Linked DNA regions of Homo sapiens. The protein of the gene in region 2 purifies or fractionates together with the protein of the main gene of each other region. This does not show direct contact. Each region holds a gene or a part of one and is shown on either strand. Other genes may lie near its edges.

Region 1 (3,500 bases), on a different chromosome or scaffold from region 2:
TTACAAGTCAGAAGCAGGGCTAAAAGTAAGCTATCTTTAAATATTACTTTAATTTATATCATATTGTCTTTCATTATCTGAGTACTGAAGCCCACAAATGGAAGAACATTGCTACAAAGTCTTAAATTTAAATTTTATAGTTGAATAATTCTCTGAGAATTTGCTATTCTTTATTATGTCTAATGAAAGTTTTAAAAATTGTAAGCATTCTCAAAAGAAGGATAAATAATTGTGTATCTTTTTTAAACTAGTGTTCAGAATCAAGTGGATGAAGTTATTGATGTCATGCAAGAAAATATTACAAAGGTAATTGAGAGAGGGGAGAGACTAGATGAACTACAGGACAAATCAGGTACAGATCTTCATGTATTTCTTGATATTACTAATCTGTTTGCTAGTTTTTGTCTTCTACTTGTCTAGCCAACGTTTACAAATCTTGGCTTAGGAAATTGGCATTTGGTTCTTAAGTATATGATTTTAATGGTTTAATTTTAACTCCTTTACTTTGAGTCATCTTATTGTTTCATTATTTTTTAATTGTTCAGTGGAGAATGAAGAATTTAAAATTTCATTGTTGAAGAGTGAAGAGTAGAGCTGTTTTTTCTTTTGCCCTGTGATATTGATGAACTTTGTGTTTCTCATGATCTCAGGGCCTAAAGACCTACTCACTTTTCAACACTTGTTTCAAACTTATCTGCTATTTTTATTTTATGTTTTATTTGGTAACTTAGTCACCTTTCTTTACTTTCAGTCATTACACCTATAACCTATACCTATACCTATACCTATACCTGGCACGTACTTGCCACTCAAATATTGTTTGGTGAATGGCTGAATACCTGATTAATCTTTGACAGACTTTAGAAAAAAAAAAAACACCTCGCTTAGTCACATTTAAAATGTATATTGTTTTCCTTTAAAATCAGTCACTTTTGATATCTTCTAAGAAGCTAACTTCTCAACATGTAATTTTTTTTCTAGAGGTGTGCCAAGTATTTGAATTTTTAAAGAGTATTTTTCTTACTAGATTTCCTAAGTTTATTTATAAGCATTAAGGCCCTAAAAAGACTTTTCTTAATTTTATAATAAAAAAGAAGTGAGCAAACTGATCTGCAAGCTGTTTTTTGCTTTTTGTTTTCATTTTTTTAATAATGTAGAATGCCAGAGTTTGTGGGTGGAAAAAAGGGAGAATGCTGTTTTCATGCTTAAAAGGGAATAAATTTGCAGAAGTAGAAATTAATATTTTCTTATCTTTGTGTGACTAGATAAAAGAATCCTGTTATGTCGTTTAATCCTTCTCTCCATCCTCTATGTGATATAGAAAGCTTATCGGATAATGCAACAGCTTTTAGCAACAGATCCAAACAACTTCGAAGGCAAATGTGGTGGCGTGGATGCAAAGTAAGTAAATCAGAAGCTACTGGATAGACTGGTCAGCATCTGAAGTGGTATTCAAACACATGAAGAAAAAAGGGCCTCTAGAGCATAACCTCTGTGAGAACAGGGCCTATAACTGTCCTGAGACATGGTAGAAATTCAGTAAATACTTGTTAACTTAATTGCTTTTGGGATAGGGATAACTAAATAAATCAGTATGCCTAAAAGGATGTTTTCATAGATTTTTTTAATGAAAGTAATCCACATTTTATTAATATTTGACTACCTCTAAACTTATTAACTTAAAACAAATATACATTTTTTCTTGAAATTTACTATTAATACTTTTTTGGAGCAACCTCTATAGCATTATGTAGAGATATCAAAAGTAGGAGCTAGAGAAAAATATGACTTTCGGTTGAAAGGGTAAAAAATAAAAGCTTACATATCCGAATCTGTTAAGACAAATGGAGTTAAGAAAAAACTCCACTTCCCTCATTATTCCAGAAAAATAAAAAGTAAAAGAAATTTTTACCATTTTTAACAAGGTAAACATTGGAATCACTACATACTAATATATACTCCTGCAAAACATTGTATAGAAATACATTTACTTCTTAAATCCACTGTGGCTACTAATCATTAACAGAAAATGTTTTTCACGTTATATGAGCAAATCTTTTTTTTTTTTCTCCTGATTCTAGTTATAATTTTTGGCTTTGTTTAAAATTTAGACATGAACTCACTGTTTTTAGTCTCTCATTTTCAATTTCAAGTTTAGCAATAACTCTCCTTTTTTTTTTTTTTTTTTTCTTTGAGATAGAGTTTTGCTCTTGTTGTCCAGGCTGATCTCGGCTCACCACAATATCACCGCAACCTCTGCCTCCAGGGTTCAAGCGATTCTTCTGCCTCAGCCTCCTGAGTAGCTGGAATTACAGACATGTGCCACCATGCCCAGCTAATTTTGTTTTTTTTGTTTTTTTTTTTTTTAGTAGAGACGGGGTTTCTCCATGTTGGTCAGGCTGGTCTTGAACTCCTGACCTCAGGTGATCCACCTGCCTTGGCCTCCCAAAGTGCTGGGATTACAGGCATGAGCCACTGCACCAGCCAGCAATAACTTTCTAAACCTGACTTAGCCATATGCTGAGGATTTTTTCCAAGAGTTACCTTGGATTTATTTATTTTTATTTGTCTACCTATTGAATCGTCCTACTTTCAGAAGTGGAACTGAGGGAAGAAATATGTTTCATTTCTCCCCTTGTTCAGAATTTAAATTTTCTATTCTATTTTAAGTTATTTATTCTTTAAAGAATAAATTTATTTTCTTTAAAGTCTTTTTTTTTTTTTTTTTGTGGCACTCTTGCTGTGTCTCTGAGGCTGGAGTGCAGTGGCACAATCTTGGCTCACTGCAACCTCTGCCTCCTAGGTTCAAGTGATTCTCATGCCTCAGCCTCCTAAGTAGCCCAGGTTCAAGCGATTCTCCTGCCTTAGTCTCCCGAGTAGCTGGAATTACAGGCATGCACCACCACACCTGGCTAATTTTTGTATTTTTAGTAGAGACGGGGTTTCACTATGTTGGCCAGGCTGGTCTTGAACTTCTGGCCTCGAGCAATCTGCCCACCTCAGCCTCCCAAAGTGCTGGATTACAGGCATGAGCCACCACACTTTGCCTAAAGCTTCTATATCTATAGAAATTTTCTATTCTGTGGGCTAATTTAGAAAAACAAAAAGTCCATGAGCCACTCACCCCTTCTCTCTCCCAAACTCATGTACCCTATTCATGTATCCACAAAAAGATGGTCATAATGTACATTTTGCCTAGCTTTTTTTTTAACCATTGCTAAAAATGTTTGCTTTGTACTTTATGGGGTTTGGGTCAGAGGAATAGCGTGCTTTTAAGGAGGAAAAACATTGAGTCATATTTTTAAATAGTCATCACCTTGAGAACCTCTGGGGACCATGAATAGCATCGACCATGTAATGAAAATCATTGTTCCATAATGTAACAAACACCATTTACAGTAGCGAGTATTCTTCATTTATTATTTTCTAATGCTTAGCTTCCTTCAGTTTTACTGTGCCCCATTAATACTTCATTGTGCTACTGTTCATCTGGGGCAGCC
Region 2 (3,500 bases):
AGGGAAAAATAAAAGGCCTTGTGGAAACATCTCTTCTAGCCATTGTGCCATCTACCTTGCACTTAAATGGGGCAGGCATTGGCGGCTGGAATCTCAGTCTTTATCTAATCTATTTCTTTTTTTTTTTTTTTTTTTTTGAGATGGAATTTCACTCTGTCGCCCAGGCTGGAGTGCAGTGGCGCGATCTCAGCTCACTGCAACCTCCACTTCTCAGGTTCAAGCGATTCTCCTGCTTCAGCCTCCTGAGTAGCTGGGATTACAGGTGCCTGCCATCACGCCCAGCTAATTTTTGTATTTTTAGCAGAGATGGTTTTTCGCCAAGTTGGCCAGGCTGGTCTCGAACTCCTGACCTCAGGTGATCCACCCGCCTTGGCCTCCCACAGTGCCGGATTATAGGTGTGAGTCACAGTGCCCAGCTATCTAATCTATTTCTTAGATAACACTCATGCCAGCTCCTTGAAGAAGTCTTCCTTTGCTACTGCAACCTCATCATCTCCCATCCCTCTGACCTTCTACAGACCTGGGCTGCTCTCAAGGTTCCCCAGATATAAATCCCAGCCCATCAACCAGACTAAAAGTTCCCCAAGAACAGGACCCAGGCCCCCCCCCCTCTGTCCCCACCTCATCTAGCTGAACTAGGAGGCACAGTGTCACTGAGTCACGGCCAGCAGGGACCTCAAAGATTTACAGATAAAAGTGATGCTGGTACTAACACACATGCGGGTCTGTGCAGCACATCATTATCTAACATCAGGGCACTCCCTTCCTTGAAAACAAAGCTAAGTCCACAAAGACCTGCTGAATAAACAAAGGAAGGAGGGCTCAACCGTGGCCTCAAACAGCCAGGCATCTGTGGTCCTGTCTTCTGAATAGAACCCTTAAGCACCTCAAGGGTTATATACATTTCCTTGGGAGTAAAGCACCTGCGGGTGCCTAGTGAGGACTTAAGGAGATATTTATAGCCCTTAAATCCAGCTTCTGGATGAGATGTTCCCAGAAGTTGAGTTCCCAGAGCCCAGGTCAGACACAGTGACCTACAAGCCTGGCCTGACCACCGTGTCACCCATCTCAGGGCCCCTCATGGGTGGGCATTTCTTCCTGTACATTTCAGCTGTATTTCCTCTATCCCTGTTCATTGCCCCAAAATCTCCTGGAGGCTTGGTGTTAAAACTGATTTTATTTGCTCTTTATATAGAAAAGACACTAACCTATTATATTGGTTCACATCTCTCCCCAGTCCAACCTGCCCCAGCTCCCTTGCTCAAACACCTCTGCTGCAATTATTCTGCTTCCTCTCTGGAATGGATACCCATGAGCTCAGCCCCTCTCTCTCTCTAGCCATCAGCTTCTTTCTGTCTTCACTCTTCTCCTTATCCAGCTTAGATTCCATAATTCATTACTCATTTTCTTATTCCCTCCCCTGCCCTGCCTTCTGGCCACACTCACCCTAGATGAACATAATTCTCATCTGTACCTGAGCTGAATGTTGCTAAGAAAAAAGGGGACCCCATGAGGAAGACTGTAAATTCACATCAGCCAATGTCAAATGAACCTTGTGTGTGGCCCAGAAATCTTAGGGGCCGGGTTTCTTTGGAGAGTGTCCTCACTATCCGTCGACAAACATGGCCTCGTTGTGAGCCCACTCTCCACACTACATCATATTTGATGGAAAAAATGGAAGCCATCAGAGGTAACTTCTTCATTTGCTTCCCAACATCTACAGACTTACCCACACCTGTCCCATCCCCCCTTCTCTCAGGTTACATGGTGGGAGATCCCTTCTTCACTCAAAGGCCAAGCCAGGCCTTGAAACTGAGTCTGTCTGCCCCATCCTCTTCCTACCATGCCATGAGGGACCTGCTGCAAAGACAGTATATTTTACCACCTTGTCGGCACATGCAAGCATCTGCCCAGGTAGGCAGCTAAGTGCAGGCCTCACTCAGGGCAGTGTCACATATAGCAGAACCCAACTGCAGTTACATTGCGGGTATCTTGGGATCCTGGGGCTCACACCCAGCACAGGATAGCCAGCTTGCCTCCCCCTCACATGCCTAAGAGGTACCTTCTAACTAGCCTCAGCACAGCCAAGTCCCATCCCCCCAAGAAGACACCTTTCCCACCCCCTGCTACAGATCACCAGAAATGAGGCCTTTACACTCTCAGCCTTAAAACCTTAGAACATTGATGCTAAGGTTTTCTAAATAAAGAATTCTAGATTATTTAATTATTTTTTTAGAGGCAGGCTCTTACTCTGTCACCCAGGGTGGAGTGCAGTAGCATGATCATAGCTCACTGCAGCCTTGAACTCCTGGGCTCAAGTGATCCTCCCACCTTAGTCCCCTGAGTAGCTAGGACTACAGGCATGTGCCACTATTCCCAGCTAGTTTTTTTAAAGAGATGGGGTATTGCTATGTTGCCCATACTGGTCTCAAACTCCTAGGCTCATTGGATCCTCCTGCCTTGGCCTCCTGAATAGCTGGGACTACAAGTGTGAGCCACCACACAGGCCTAATTTTTTTATTTTCTGTAGAGACAGGGGTCTTGCTGTGTTGCCTAGGCTGGTCTTAAACTCCTTACCTCAAGTGATCCTCCTGGCTCAGCCTCCCAAAGTGCCGGGATCACAGGTGTGAACCACTGTGCCTGACATTAGACTCTTACAGGTATAGACCACCCAACACAGAGCTGCATGGAACCACAGCAATCGCCAAGCCAATACTTTCTTCCTACAAATGAGGAACCTGCTGCTTGGCAAGCACAGTGACCAGGCAAACTTGATCCCACAGCTCCCAACTCCCAGCTGAATCCTCCTCTCTTTGAGCAATCTTCCAGAGAAAGCAAGACAAATAAGGCTTTGAGGGAAGGATTCCTCTCCAAATCCAGAATCCTGAGGTCCTGACAGTCCCCAGAGGTTCCCTGGAAAGTTACTCCAGTGGAAGGGAAAGGGGAAGCAAGAAGACAGGGATTACACTGCAGAGAGGGACCCCTGTCCAGATGCTCTGTGAAAGGAGGGTGGAGGGGAAGGAAGGGAAGAGAGGCCTAGATGGGGGAGGTTGAGGGAAACTGAGGCCCAGTCGGGGAGGTGGCCCATGGAAGAAGCCTCTGGGAGCCTGGCAGGGGAAGACTTATGGTCCATGCATATGCCACAAGTGGGACTGAAGGACAGTCAGGCCTGTGGGCACCCCACCCCGCTGCCCAGCACGCCCAGTCTTCCTGCCTCCTCCAGCCACCCTGGCCCACCCCCATCCCATGGCACTCACACATCCAGAGGTAGTAGAGGCGCTTGGTCATGCTGACATGCTGGGGAGGAATATCTGCCTCGAAGTCTTGGTAGAAACATGGCTTCAGCGGGATGAATTTGGGCAATGGTGGGAAGTTGTTCACTTTCTCTGTGGATGAGACACATTGCACAACATCACCTCCAGTCTTCCACCCGACAATCCAAGACGCCCATCCTTCCCCTGGCTGTGCTGCCCCATTGGCCCCTGTGGCCACCGGCCACT
Region 3 (3,462 bases), about 32 Mb from region 2:
TAAAATGTAGAATAAATCAGAGATCAATATTTGAGCAACATACTATTTCGTTTTTGTTTATAGAAAAGTGAAAACTAAAATTGAATGAAAGCTTGACTTTAGCCAAATAATCAAGAAAAGTTTTGTGTCACTTTTCCGTAACAGCCATTTTTTTTTCCCTGTAATAGCCACTTTTTCTTTCTTTTTAAGACACTTAGACTTATGATTTTTTTTTTTTTTTGAGATGGAGTGTCTCGCTCTGTTGCCCAGGCTGGAGTGCAGTGGTGTGATCTTGGCTCCTTGCAACCTCCGCCTCCTGGGTTCAAGCGATTCTCCTGCCTCAGCCTCCCCAGTAGCTGGGATTATAGGCACGTGGTGCCACACCCAGCTAATTTTTGTATTTTTAGTAGAGATGGGGTTTCACCATGTTGCCCAGGCTGGTCTTGAACTCCTGACCTCAGGTGATCCACCCACCTTGGCCTCCCAAAGTGCTGGGATTACCGGTGTGAGCTACTGTGCCCGGCCTTGATCGTTTTTTTAAAGAGGAAACTCTTAAATGAAAAACTCCTACACTACAGGATTTATGAATGACCGCTTGTGTGGTCAAGGTACTTATTTGTCCGCTGATTGTCCAATTTGGAAATTATTCATGCCTTTCTTTCCTGATGGCTGGTTTGTTTGTAAGAAACCATTGTTTAAAATTTCATGGAAAATTCTAATAAAAACTGATCAGCTGGAACTACGCTGGTTCAAATTCAGTCTTCTTATTTTAAAATTTTATTTATTTATTTAAGATTAGGTCTCACTCTGTCACCCAGGCTGGAGTGCAGTGGCACTATCATGGCTCACTGCAGCCTCGACCTTCTGGGCTCAAGCAGTCCTCCCACCTCAGCCTCTCGAGTAGCTGGGACCACAGGCGTGTGCCACCACACCCAGCTAATGTTTGTATTTTTTTATAGAGATGGCATTTTGAGGCAGGGAGCAGTGGCTCACGAGCCTGTAGTCCCAGCACTTTGGGAGGCCGAGGTGGATGGATCACTTGAGGTCAGGAGTTTGAGAGATGGGTTTTTGCTGTGTTGCCCTGGCTGATCTTAAACTCCTGAGCTCAAGCGATCCACCCGCCTTGGCCTCCCAAAGTGCTGGGAGTACAGGCGTGAGCCACTGCACCCAGCATCAGCCTTCTTATTCTGTCATCCCTTGTCAACCTCTGAGATGCCTTCAAGGAACCTCTTAAGGTATCCCAGAACACCTTTTCTAAGGGACCTTTTTTTAAGTAATGTGCATTAACCTCTTTTCTAGATAGTGCTGGATACACTAGGAAGAGAAAAGCAAAACGATAGTGCCAGAGGCTAAGGGAACCTGAAAAATCAAATAGTTGCCTTTTGCTACTTGCTAACAGCCTAGTGAAGATTTGGTAGAAGTAGTATTTGGACCTTTTTAAAATTTTTTTTAGTGTCAATGGGTTTACATAATTCATCTATTTCCTATTCCATATTGCCATGGAGCATAGTGTAGATCATCTAGACTTAGCTGTATGCAGCTTTTCTACTAGAGTTATTAGTGTCATCCTCAAGGTAACAGGCACTAATAATTAGAACTCTCCGTCTTCTTTTTTTTGGTATCTCCCTACACTCCTGACTCTTATATAGAACAAAGAACTTTGAGTCTGGCAAGGCTTATAAGACAACATGGGGAGATGGTGGAGAAAACTCACCTTGCAATGTAGTATCTAAACAGCCAGGCCCGGTGACAAATGGTCAGCTTCAGCAACCAACAACGGGAGCAGCCAGTGGTGGATACATTAAACGGTATGCCAACTCCTCCTGATATTCCTGTACCTTTCTTAATGAATGGTTCACTTAGGAGATGAGTTTAGCAGTACATGACCCCTAATAAAACAAATAAAAATTGTATTTATTCCATTTTTAAAATGCATTTAAAAATCTGCCCACTGACAAAATGTGGGTTTTTTTTATTTGTTGTTTTGTTTTGAGACAGAGTCTTGCTGTGTTGCCCAGGCTGGAGTGCAGTGGCGTGATCTCAGCTCACTGCAACCTCTGCCTCCCAGGTTCAAGTTATTCTCCTGCCTCAGCCTTCCGAGTAGCTGGGACTACAGGTGTGCGCCACCACGCCCAGCTAATTTTTGTATTTTTAGTAGAGACAGGGTTTCACCATGTTGACCAGGCTGGTCTTGGACTCCTGACCTCAGGTGATCCACCTGCCTCGGCCTCCCAAAGTGCTGGGATTACAGGCATAAGCTACCACACCTGGCCAGACAAAATGTTGACTGTGGTGGTTGACCTTGGGTGATGGAATTAACTTTTCTTTATACTTTTCAGTACTTTCCAAATTATTGAACTAGACATATTTTACTTTTATATATAGAAAAAAATAGGTTTTAAAATGTGTCATCTAGAACAAGGGTCAGCTAGATTCCTGTAAGAAGATCTGTAACGAGCCAGAGAGTTAATATTTCAGACTTTTCAGGCCATACAGTCCCTTGCAATTACTCAACTCTGTTGTAGGGTTAAAGCAGGCATAAACAATATGTAAACAAATGAGCACAGCTGTGTTTGAATAACACTTGATTTACAAAATCATATGGTGGCCAGATTTGGTCCTTGGGCCGTAGTTTTCCAACCTCTCTCTTAGGGCAGTGCTTCTTTAGATAGACTTAACTGTGCATTAGAACCACTTGAGGGGCTTATTAAACCGTAGGTTTCTGGGATGCACTTACAGTTTCTGATTGAGTAGGTCTGGAATGGAGTGTGAGAATTAGCATTCTCATGTCTAACAGCTTCCCAGGTGATGCTGGGAATTAAGCTTTGAGAAACACTGTTTCAGAGTTTCTTTCTTTTCTTACATGGCTTTAAGATACTGTGCTCTCTTTGATGAGTCTCCCAGTTTTTATTATAGAATGTTTCCCAGGAATGGTAACCTATATTCTTTTGGATCTTATACTTGCTGAGAGTCATTTTGGTTACTTACTTTTGTGAAAAGTAAATCCAGACTTTTATTTAAATTCAACAAAACCTATGGAATTAACTGTCTTCTTGTGATAGCATAACTAATGATGCCAGAGAAGATGAAATGGAAGAGAACCTGACTCAAGTGGGCAGTATCCTGGGAAATCTAAAAGACATGGCCCTGAACATAGGCAATGAGATTGATGCTCAAAATCCACAAATAAAACGAATCACAGACAAGGTAAAAGCTTTTTATTGCCACAAGAAAATGAGACACCCAGTTCAGTGTTTCAGTAATAGACATCTGTGCTAGATACTGTGGGGGACACGGTAGAATAAGCTCCTGTCCTCATAGGTCTTAATTCTGATGAGGTGGTGGTTCTAACACATAAAACAAGAGCCAAGTCCTCCCTGTCATGGTAGTTGGTGCATTTTGAAACCAGAGTTTTGGAATATAGTAGTTTTACTTAAACCTTCACACATGAAGCTTAGTATCTACTTTAGCTTTTGAGCGTGT

Evidence for each region. Proteins that work in one complex are often made in the same cells at the same time.
Region 1: the proteins of SCAMP5 (region 2) and VAMP4 purify together in Homo sapiens (co-immunoprecipitation; one study listed by IntAct). This does not show direct contact.
Region 3: the proteins of SCAMP5 (region 2) and SNAP23 purify together in Homo sapiens (co-immunoprecipitation; one study listed by IntAct). This does not show direct contact.

What each region holds. Positions count from the first base shown.
Region 1 is NC_000001.11:171,707,566-171,711,065, reverse strand, and holds part of VAMP4 (vesicle-associated membrane protein 4), read left to right. Parts: intron 1-251; coding exon 252-352; intron 353-1,265; coding exon of another isoform or gene 1,266-1,321; coding exon 1,322-1,401; intron 1,402-3,500. UniProt on the Homo sapiens protein: Involved in the pathway that functions to remove an inhibitor (probably synaptotagmin-4) of calcium-triggered exocytosis during the maturation of secretory granules.
Region 2 is NC_000015.10:75,012,563-75,016,062, reverse strand, and holds part of SCAMP5 (secretory carrier-associated membrane protein 5), read right to left. Parts: intron 3,387-3,500; coding exon 3,258-3,386; intron 1-3,257. UniProt on the Homo sapiens protein: Required for the calcium-dependent exocytosis of signal sequence-containing cytokines such as CCL5. Probably acts in cooperation with the SNARE machinery.
Region 3 is NC_000015.10:42,526,634-42,530,095, forward strand, and holds part of SNAP23 (synaptosomal-associated protein 23), read left to right. Parts: intron 1-1,628; coding exon 1,629-1,787; exon of another isoform or gene 1,788-1,838; coding exon of another isoform or gene 1,839-1,868; intron 1,869-3,041; coding exon 3,042-3,186; intron 3,187-3,462. UniProt on the Homo sapiens protein: Essential component of the high affinity receptor for the general membrane fusion machinery and an important regulator of transport vesicle docking and fusion.